3 linked regions of the Homo sapiens genome follow. The gene in region 1 interacts genetically with each later gene. Each region holds a gene or a part of one and is shown on either strand. Other genes may lie near its edges.

Region 1 (3,651 bases):
CTCGGCTCACTGCAACCTCCGCCTCCCGGGTTCAAGTGATTCACCAGCCTCAGCCTCCTGAGTAGCTGGGATTACGGGCATGTGCCACCACGCTCAGCTAATTTTTGTATTTTTGGTAGAGACAGGGTTTCACCATATTGGCCAGGATGGTCTTGATCTCTTGACCTCATGATCCGCATGCCTTGGCCTCCCAAAATGCTGGGATTACAGGCGTGAGCCACCGTGCCCGGCCTAATATTTATTTTTTAATAGAGATGGGGTTTTGCTATGTTGCCTAGGCAATTGAATGGATGAAATATAAGTTTAAAAGATTGGAAATCGAAACGACTATTACTGCAATATTTAATATGCTCTGTGTATTATGTAAAACATTCAGCTTTATAATGGCTTCTTTAAGCTCACAGGAGGTATTTTAAGGCAGTAGTTTCTGTAGTATATTTAAGATAGGATTGCGATTAAAATATGTTTAAAAGTTGGAGAGAGTATGTTTTCTATACTTGAGATGAAATTTACTGTATTTTTATTTTCATTAGGTTACCTTGTATGAATGTCATTCACAAGGAGAAATCCGGTTGTTGCAATCTTACGTGGATGCTGATGTATCCTTTCCTGGGTTTTTAATATCTTTAGTCAAAGGAATTTATTTTCAATAAGTGCACCAAAACTTTTATAAATTAATCATTTCCCTAAAGTTATTGTTCTTTCTTAACCGATTTCTTCACTATCACCCAAGAGAATCCTGTATCTAGTTTTCCTGACCCTTAGAAATCCATTGTGGTATGTGTCAACTCAGCTAGGCAAAAAGAAAAAGAAAAGAATCCATTGTGGGATGGATGTGCTGGTTGGGTGCAGATGTCTATAGAGATAGGAGCATTAGAAATCTAGTAATAGAAAATATTAGCAAAGACTGATTAAAACCTCCTTTTTCTTTGACCTTGCCTAGAATATATCATTTCATTGTAGTTATAATGATGAACTTGGCTTGTGACTGGTAGTCATTCTAAGTATTTGATCAACGAAGCCTAGGAAGAAAAAAAAAGTTTAGGAAAAATAAAATATATAAAAATAAAATAAAATAGGAAATAAAAATTGCAAAACAGGTTCATAAAGAAACAGAAAAATTTGAAAAGCCCGAGTTAGAGCGGTAAAAGCTAAGTAATAAGATATTTCTTCCAGATCCATTTGAAAAACCTAGCAAACAAGACAAGGCAAGGACATTCAGTCTTCTCTAAAAGATATTGAAATGTGACCTGTTGTTGTATTGAGACTGTCTCACAAAGAAAAAAGTGGAAAACTGAATTGTTCTTTTTTAGATATTTATAGAGGTATGGGGATAGAGCAGAGGTTAAACTACAGCGTGCAGGTTGGTCACCTGTTTTTGTAAAGTTTTGTTTTGAACACAACCATGCCCATTCATTTGTATATTTTCTGCAGTTATTTTGGTACTGCAACTACAGAGTTGAGTAGTTGTACAAGCAGCTAAAGAGTAAACAAAATTGAGTGGAGAGACTGTAATTTTGTTTGATCATTTGTTATGGATTTTAGACCTCAAATCACCATTGTATATATTTGGTTGTATAAGGAAAATTGAGAACTTTGGTGTCAAAAACTTTAGCAGTTCTTTATAAGTTTCTATTATAATTATTGACATGTTTCTTTTTCAAAAACATTATGTTTCTTAACTGTGGAATTTCTTAGGCTGATGAAAACTTTTACACTTGTGCATGGACCTATGATAGCAATACGAGCCATCCTCTGCTGGCTGTAGCTGGATCTAGAGGCATAATTAGGATAATAAATCCTATAACAATGCAGTGTATAAAGGTGGGTTTTTCTGGTTAAATTGTAGATCTGCTTCTTTTGAATCCACAACTGTAAAAACTTGTAATGTTAAATTTAAAACTAATGGTATGAATGTAACATTTCTCATTTGATTTGTACTTTTCTTACTGCTCTCTTTGGATGAGTCTTTTGAGACGTTTGTCACATTTGGGTAATGTAAATTAAGGAATAAGTGGGAAAATGTTAATATTTGTAGTGCTTTCTTTTTAAATCATTTCCCTCTTTCACCCTTGTCATGGTTTACTTTGAGAGGCTCTAAATGAACAATAAGAGGGAGTCCATTTTCCAAGACACCTAAACTGGAGGGGTGTTATCAAAGGGACCTTGTAACGAACATAAAGGTGAAGCCTAGGAAGTTGATAAGAAGACGGGTTTTTCAAATCACTTTCATCACCTGTTTTTAACTGTTGGGCTACATCACACTCTCCTGAGGATGCTTAAAACCCTACGCATATTGGAGCCTCCGCTAATCCGATCAGAATATCTGCAGGTGGAGTTTTGAGCATCTTTTTTTTTTTTTGTTCTGAGACAGATTCTGACTCCTTTGCCCGGGCTGGAATGTAGTAGCATGATTATAGCTCACTGCAGCCCGTCTCCTGGGCTCAAGCGATCCTCCTGCCTCAGCCTCTCAAGTAGCTGGGGCCAATTTTTAATTTGTGTGTGTGTGTGTGTGTGTGTGTGTGTGTGTATGAAGATAGGGTCTTGCTGCATTGCTCTGACTGGTCTTGAACTCCTGACCTCAAGCGATTCTGCCTTAGCTTTCCAAAGTGCTTGGATTAAAAACATGAGCCACCCACTGTGCCTGGGGTCTTTTTTTTTTTTTTTTTTCCTTTTCACCTCAAGTTTGTTGGGTGATTTTAGTATGCAGCCAAGGTTGAGAACCACTACTTTAAGTGAAACTATTTTTACATTCTCTAAAGATTTATGAAAAAAAATTTACTGATTTTGAGATAGGAAACTTGAAATGTTTTAAATTTATTGTAGCACTATGTTGGCCATGGAAATGCTATCAATGAGCTGAAATTCCATCCAAGAGATCCAAATCTTCTCCTGTCAGTAAGTAAAGGTAAGTGAAGCAAATGTTTCTTGAGTCTGTGCAATTTGTCAGAATTAAGATGGAGTCACTAATGTCAAGAAAACCCTGACAAATAGGAAAAACCATGAGAAGAGAGTCCACATGCTTGTATGTCTGATAATAAAAACTCACAAAAAAACACAACCACAACCTTGCACAAAGGCCATCACAGCCTTACACAGAAAATACTGGCAGTAAGTGCCTCTCCATCCTGAGACTGGCATCACCCTTGTTACTGATTTTGTGGCCAATCTTATTTCAAAACAATTATGTAATCCTTCTCATTTTTTTCTTTAAAAACCTCTGTCTTTCCTTTACGTCTCGGAGAACACACATAGTTTACTTTGGCATGTACATTCTCATTGCAGTGCATTATTTCCATATAAACATCTTTTATTTTAGAGAGCCTCTCTGTTACTTAGGTTGACAGGTCCTGTTTTATTTTAAGTCTAGTATCTGTTAGTTATTTTTCCTGATCTTCTTACTCCTCCCACCCTCTACCCTCCAGTAGGCCCCAGTGTATGGACAGATAGTGTTCTAAGGAAATAAAGCCAAATTAAAAAAAAGGTTATAACAGTACATTTTAGTAGGAAAATCCCAGGCTATGTTAGCATATCCAAATCATTTTGTCCAATCATGTAATAATAAATACTACATATGAAAATTCATATTGCTTTTTTATTTTTTAAAAAAGCTTTTGTTTTATAAAGGATTTCCTATAGAATTTCTTAAAA
Region 2 (3,651 bases), on another chromosome or scaffold:
CGCTGGCAGATTTGGTGTCTGGTGAGGGCCCACTCCCTGGCTCATAGATGGCTGTCTTTTCATTGTGTCCTTGCATGGTGGCAGGGATGCGGGAGCACTCTCCGGGGCCTCTCATAGAAGGGCCTGGATTCCATTCATGAGGGCTTCACTCCCATGACCCAATCACCTCCCAAAGGCCATGCCTCCTAATTCCATCCCCTTAGGGGTTAGGATTTTGACATGTGAGTTTTGGTAGGGGACACAGGCATTCACTCTATAGCACTGATAAACATTCTTTGATAATAGCCATTATTTTAGTGGGTAAGGTGTTTTTAAATACCCATAAGCGAGCACAAAATCAGTTTAAATGGCAGAGAGGAGGGTGAGAAGAAAATGCTGGTGGGGAAAACCTTTTGCTGTGCACGCCTGCTCCTTCCTCCACTCCTACCCCATCTCCATGACCCTGTAAGTGGCCACAGTCATGTCACTGGGTAAAGTGCTTATTGAAACAAAATTGGCACAGGCTTCTGATCCTGCGTGTGGGTTGGTGTAGCAGAGGTTCAGTGCAACAGAAGAAGTTTTTCATCTTAAAATTTGGAAGTAACCCCTGGCCAGCAATTCACTGTAGTGTTTGGGAAACATAGGAATATCTGCTTATTGTGACAGATTCTCAAGAAACCTGTTTCCTTTCCACAAAGATGGAAACCAGGCACTGTACCAATGAGTCAGTTCACTACGTTTTGTCCTCTGTCCTTACACGCAGCGGAGACAGACGAGAACTTGGTCCTCTGCCTCTGCTGTTTGGTGACACCTATCGTAAGAATGTATCTAGGAATGAGCTGTTTGTTTTTGAAGTACTTATTTTTGGAAACCCTAAAGTGGCTGAGCATCAAGTGGTTGTGTTTTCTCTGAAAACGCCAGTATTAGTCATAACCTTTTTCCAAAGTATCATCCCTTAAAGATGTTCAGAACCTTGTGTGTATCGTATAACCTGGAGCACCCTCAAGCTGTCCGCCCTTTTCAAGTTTTAAAAATGGCTTAGGCAAACATATTGCTTAAGTGATATCCAGTGAAGGTGTCTCCTGTGCTTTGAAAAACCATCAACATTGATGCTTTTTTGTGACCCAATAAGGACAAGATTTCAGTGGTTCTGGGATGCATTTGATCTTTATGCACACTTCAGCTCTGGGTTTCAGTTCAGGGGTCAGCATAAGTAAAGCTTGATCAGATAACTATGCTTTGCCTATAATCGGCATTCATTCTGCTGGTGACAGAGTCCTTTGCTCAAAATGAGGCTTCCATGCGTTTGCAGTTCTAAACTGCTTTTCAGAGTCATGCCTCAGTCATTGTACTGAAGGATGCCTGTGGAAATGGTGGACTTCCGTGTTCTTTGCATTGCCTCTCCCCCATCCCTCTTACACACAGCTGTGACATGGGCATGCACACTCCTTCACACACACAGACTCTCCAGGCCCCTTTCCACTTCCTCTTTCCATTTGGCTTCATGACATTTTTATCAGAGATTCAAAATCTCAGATGAAATCCAAGTCAGCCTGTTTTACCAGTTGTCGAAATTGCCGGAGTGCAGCACTGTGGAGAATGGCAGTTGTAATAAATGAGAAATACCAGGTGTTTGAATTAGCTGTAGATTTTCACATTGTCTCTTCTAACCCTGCTTGTGCCCCCGCAGCCTTTTTCCATTTACAACTCAGTAATGTTTGTTTTCACAGAGATTACCGGAGGAAATAGATTATAAAGGGAAATGTTGGCATTTATAGTAGTACTATTTCAAAATAAGGTTCACTTTTCACTTTGTATTTCATTGTTCATTGTTATTTTCTTATCCAGGTCAAACTGGCAGTTTCCTGTTGGCTTGCCAGAGTATCTGATAGCCTGACTCTTAAGTTCATTTCATTTTCTAGAATGTTCTTTGTTCCCCTCTCCAGTTCCTTCCATTCCCTTGGACGTTCTTTCAGCATCGAACTCCTCTTCTCAGTTAATCGTGAAGTGGAACCCTCCCTCTCTGCCCAACGGCAACCTGAGTTACTACATTGTGCGCTGGCAGCGGCAGCCTCAGGACGGCTACCTTTACCGGCACAATTACTGCTCCAAAGGTAAGGGTGCAGCAGCGGCCTGGACGGAGGGTGTGACCGTTCATTCCTGTGGTTGTAATGTGCCTGAGCCCTAATATTACACGTATCAGACAACAGTGTAGTTCTCCATTGGAAACCAGCTATCTTCTGGTTTTTTTTTTTTTTTTTTGAGACAGAGTCTCACTCTGTTGCCCAGGCTGGAGTGCAGTGGCACGATCATGGCTCACTGCAATTTCTGCCTCCCAGGTTCAAGCATTTCTCATTCCCCAGCATTCCGAGTAGCTGGGATTACAGGCATGCACCACCATGCCCAGCTAATTTTTGTATTTTTAGTAGAGACGGGGTTTCACCATGTTGCCCAGGCTGGTCTGAAACTCCTAACCTCAGGTGATTTGCCCGCCTCGGCCTCCCAAAGTGCTGGGATTATAGCCTTGAGCCACCACATCTGGCCGAGACCAGCTATCTTCTTGATTAAAGGTACTGAGAGCTATTATTTTTCCTTACAAGCATGTATAACGGCTTTCATTCCCACTCTTGTTTTGGCTTTTCTTTTCCGAGAAGACAAAATCCCCATCAGGAAGTATGCCGACGGCACCATCGACATTGAGGAGGTCACAGAGAACCCCAAGACTGAGGTGTGTGGTGGGGAGAAAGGGCCTTGCTGCGCCTGCCCCAAAACTGAAGCCGAGAAGCAGGCCGAGAAGGAGGAGGCTGAATACCGCAAAGTCTTTGAGAATTTCCTGCACAACTCCATCTTCGTGCCCAGGTACCCAGCTCATGTGAAATTTCAGTTGGCAAAACCCACTGCTCAGGCCGGTTCTGTTGCCTTTCTCCCCACCAGGTAGTGTGTAAGTCAGCAGCTGGGGGGTACAATACAGTAGCCACTGAGACGGAGCCGAAAAAGATGACAGGTTCGGTGAAGTGAGTCCCTGCGGAAGCCAGTCAGCCCTGAAGGGAACAGGGACCAGGGCTTGGGTTGCTGGGGCCACCGGTGTGACAGGTACTGCTGTCTCAGCCACAACCCCCCACAGAGAGCAGGTGGGCACCCTGTGGTAGAGGCAGGGAGGGGAAACTCAAAGAGTATTGACAGCTGCTGCCTGGTGAGAGGAAAGGCCAGGATTTGGGTCCATCTCTGCCCTTCCTAATTATCTTTACTGCCTCTCTCAGCCTCACAGAGGAGGAGTGAAGCAAGAGGGAAAAAAGTCAGAGTCTGTGCTGGAAAGGGCCTGACTTCAAAACATAGCCAGGTGCCACAGGCATCCTGTACAAGTAAGTTTGGGAAGCAGTGTAGGGCGACAGCCTGCATTGGCTGTTTATTCCGTGGTTACTCTGTCTTTCAAAGCAACACAGCCCCTGCCCCAGGGACTCTGCTCCTCTGCTGTGGTCTTGGTTTCTGGGGAGTGGGGACAAAAGCAGAGGAAAGTAAACGTTCATAGCAGGACTGTTCATAGTAGCCAAATCTGGAAACCCAGTGTACATCAACAGGTGAGTGGCTCAATAAAATGGGCTCGAACCTTACAGTAGAATATTATTCAGCCATAAAAAGGGAGGAAATTTTGATCCATGTCACAACACAGAT
Region 3 (3,651 bases), on another chromosome or scaffold:
TGGGACCTGATCTGTCACCCCAGTACCTGATACCAGCATGAAGAGAGCGAGCCAGGCAGCTGCTCCACCAGGCCTTGGTAGGATACTCATATTCAGCCTTGCTTATCTTACGATAGGGTTCTCTGTTACTAGAAGCCAAAGGCTCAGTTTATATTCTGCTTATCTCTCCGTCTTTCTCTGTGTGTTTGTCTATTTCTATCTGGGTCCCATTGGGGATAGTTGGGCACTGGTCTCTTATGTGTAGGGTGACATTTGCCTGGGGCATCAGTAACTGGCACAGAATCCCAGGGATACGGGAGGAGGTGTTACAGATATTTGGTTAGGGAAGGAGCTGGAATCAAGATTCTTAGAGCAAGAGTGAAGGGCATTAGAGATGGGGCCAGAAAGGAGAATCCTAGATAATCTTGGCTTTCTCCCTCATATGCCCATGGCAGCCCCTAGTCTGATATGGCCGGTTTTGCATTTCCTCTTCTCTTTCAGTGAGAAATGCAGCTCTGGGGGTGGGATGTAGGAAGAGGGAACTATATAATTTTTACTCATAGGGACATTTTCCTGTGATTTGTCTTTACTCCCTTTCATCATTGTGCTCCCTACTCCCTCTGCAGACAGAATATCTGCGCCATGCGCCTTCTTCCTCCGGTTGTTCTTCCTCATCTCCTGGCTGAACCTACTGTGGTTTTCCTTTATGTCTGATCCCTTCCCCTTTGCGCCTTAGGCTTCACCGTATGTTGTGGACCATGGGGAATCTGGCCCTTTGCGCTGCAACCGCTGCAAAGCATACATGTGTCCCTTCATGCAGTTCATTGAAGGAGGGAGGCGTTTCCAGTGCTGTTTTTGCAGCTGTATCAATGATGGTATGTTCATGGAAGCTGGGATTTGGGGGAAGGTCTTGATTGTATCTTCCTTGTTCTCTATTAAATAGTTAGAGAGATGAGGGTCCATCTTTCAGGAGCTGGGGAAGTAGGGCACATGGGAATGAGGGATAGTGGTGTGAGCTCAGCTAGGGCCAGAATACTAAGATTGAAACTGGATCTTCGAGTAACACACTGCCATGCTTCCCACAGTTCCCCCCCAGTATTTTCAGCACCTGGATCATACCGGCAAACGTGTGGATGCTTATGACCGCCCTGAGCTATCCCTGGGCTCTTATGAATTCTTGGCCACTGTAGATTACTGCAAGGTGAGGGAAGGTAGCATGGGAGGAGCAGTGAGTGGAGGATAATGAGACAGCTGAGAATGGCTGTTATCATTTCCCTCACCCCTTTTTTGTCCCTTTTTGATGCTGACTTCTCTATAGTCAACTGGCCTGCTTACCATTCCCCCTCTCCCCAACATTTTCTTCCTCTGCAGAACAATAAGTTCCCCAGCCCTCCTGCCTTTATCTTCATGATTGACGTCTCCTACAATGCCATCAGGACTGGTCTTGTTAGGCTCCTCTGTGAGGAGCTCAAGTCACTGTTAGACTTTCTACCTAGGTGAGAGTTACAGAACTGAGGTGTTTCCTGAGGTTAATGATAGGGTGTCTGGGTTGACTGAAGAAATGTAGCTTGGTGTCATGAAGTTGTGGGTGGTGGAAAAGGTGGCAAGTCTAGGTAACAATGTCACCTTCTACAGGGAGGGTGGGGCAGAAGAGTCAGCAATCCGCGTTGGCTTTGTCACCTACAATAAGGTGCTCCACTTCTATAATGTGAAGAGCTCATTGGCCCAGCCACAGATGATGGTTGTGTCTGATGTGGCTGACATGTTTGTGCCACTGCTGGATGGCTTCCTGGTCAACGTCAATGAGTCTCGGGCAGTTATCACCAGGTAAGAGCCAGATTGTGGAGGTAAAGGTTGGGGGTGGCATGGGTACCACCATAGAAGGTCATGGAGTTGAACAGAGGTATTGGACAGTAGATGGAAAGGGGTTGTGGCCCAGGAGTTGTCAGATTCTAGAGGCTTGATGACTCTTCAGGGAATCGAGAACTGAGGTATCTGGAATCTGTATAGCAATTTTGGTTGTTTTCCGTCACCTATCTCTTTAGCTTATTGGATCAGATTCCAGAAATGTTTGCAGACACAAGGGAAACAGAGACAGTATTTGTACCAGTTATCCAGGCTGGAATGGAGGCTCTGAAGGTAAGGCTGGAGTATCGGGCAACCTCCTCTAACTCCATTTTCCTCTGACCATCTTATCCCCTGGGATACAACCTCTCTTTCTTCAGTAGTGGGTGACTGTCCAGTGTGTTAGACTGTCTGACATAGCTGGTGCTTAATAAATGACAAGGGAAGAGATGGATGAATAAAGAATAAACAAGTAGTCCTCTCTTTTTTCCTAGGCTGCTGAGTGTGCAGGGAAGCTCTTTCTATTCCATACATCCCTGCCCATTGCAGAGGCCCCAGGGAAACTGAAGAACAGAGATGACAGGAAGCTGATCAATACAGACAAGGAGAAGGTGTGGGACTGGAAAATGGGGGAGGGGAAGGATTTTTCATTACAGAGGAAGTGGGGACTCTACTTTCTTGATGGTGGCTAGGACCAGACACTCCACCCTTTCAAATACCATATCTGTGACTGCCAACCTCCACTGCTGCCATACTTCTCTACTCCATCTGATGCCAAAGCTGTTGGTAGACTCTTGTATTTATTTATTTTTTAAAGAAGAACTTTTGGCCGGGCATGATGGCTCATGCCTGTAATCCGAGCGCTTTGGGAGGCCAAGGCGGGCAGATTTTTGAGGCCAGAAGTTTGAGACCAGCCTGACTAACATGGCAAAACCCCGTCTCTACTAAAAATACAAAAATTAGCCAGGTGTGGTGGCACACACCTGTAATCCCAGCTACTTGGGAGTCTGAGGCAGGAGAATCGCTTGAACCTGGGAGGCAGAGGTTGCAGTGAGCTGAGATCATGCCACTCTATGCCAGCCTGGGTGACAGAGTGAGACCCTGTCTCAAAAAAATAAAAATAATATAAAAGAAAATTTTTTACTATTGGAAAATCCTTGGAAGTAGATCTGAAGTCTTCCATGAATTTGAATATCCCATGCTAGATATACAGTTTTCAAATAGGGCGGAGCTGAGATATTTGAACATTTTCTTCTCCCCATTTTCTTTCCCCCTAGACTCTGTTCCAGCCTCAGACAGGTGCCTATCAGACCCTGGCCAAAGAGTGTGTGGCCCAAGGCTGCTGTGTAGATCTCTTTCTCTTCCCTAACCAGTATGTGGATGTGGCCACACTCTCTGTTGTGCCCCAGCTCACTGGTGGCTCTGTCTACAAATATGCTTCCTTTCAGGTATGGTGTGGGATTTGGGGCAGCAGGTGGCAGCAGGGCTGGGAATATCTGCTTATATATGCAGTGGCTGACTCATTAATAGAAATAGTGTTGGGGCCAGGCACGGTGCCTCACACCTGTAATCCTAGCACTTTGGGAGGCTGAGGCAGGCAGATCACCTGAGGTCAGGAGTTCAAGACCAGCCTGGCCAACATGGCAAAACCCCATCTCTACGAAAAATACAAAAATTAGTCGGGTGTGGTGGCGGGCGCCTGTAATCCCAGCTACTCAGGAAGCTAAGAATCCCTTGAACCCGGGAGGTGGAGGTTGTGGTGAGCCGAGATTGCGCCACTGCACTCCAGCCAGAGCGACAGAGTAAGACTCCGTCTCCAAAAAAGAA

The links.
Region 2: changes in EED (region 1) and IGF1R together harm fitness less than expected from each alone (positive genetic interaction), as found in Homo sapiens cells (one large-scale study listed by BioGRID).
Region 3: changes in EED (region 1) and SEC24C together harm fitness less than expected from each alone (positive genetic interaction), as found in Homo sapiens cells (one large-scale study listed by BioGRID).

Annotation. Positions count from the first base shown.
Region 1 is NC_000011.10:86,254,689-86,258,339, forward strand, and holds part of EED (polycomb protein EED), read left to right. Parts: intron 1-533; coding exon 534-599; intron 600-1,698; coding exon 1,699-1,824; intron 1,825-2,826; coding exon 2,827-2,908; intron 2,909-3,651. UniProt on the Homo sapiens protein: Polycomb group (PcG) protein. Component of the PRC2/EED-EZH2 complex, which methylates 'Lys-9' and 'Lys-27' of histone H3, leading to transcriptional repression of the affected target gene.
Region 2 is NC_000015.10:98,914,039-98,917,689, forward strand, and holds part of IGF1R (insulin-like growth factor 1 receptor isoform 1 precursor), read left to right. Parts: intron 1-1,925; coding exon 1,926-2,093; intron 2,094-2,633; coding exon 2,634-2,838; intron 2,839-3,651. UniProt on the Homo sapiens protein: Receptor tyrosine kinase which mediates actions of insulin-like growth factor 1 (IGF1). Binds IGF1 with high affinity and IGF2 and insulin (INS) with a lower affinity. The activated IGF1R is involved in cell growth and survival control.
Region 3 is NC_000010.11:73,764,736-73,768,386, forward strand, and holds part of SEC24C (protein transport protein Sec24C), read left to right. Parts: intron 1-715; coding exon 716-854; intron 855-1,064; coding exon 1,065-1,180; intron 1,181-1,350; coding exon 1,351-1,475; intron 1,476-1,614; coding exon 1,615-1,806; intron 1,807-2,024; coding exon 2,025-2,118; intron 2,119-2,318; coding exon 2,319-2,435; intron 2,436-3,101; coding exon 3,102-3,272; intron 3,273-3,651. UniProt on the Homo sapiens protein: Component of the coat protein complex II (COPII) which promotes the formation of transport vesicles from the endoplasmic reticulum (ER).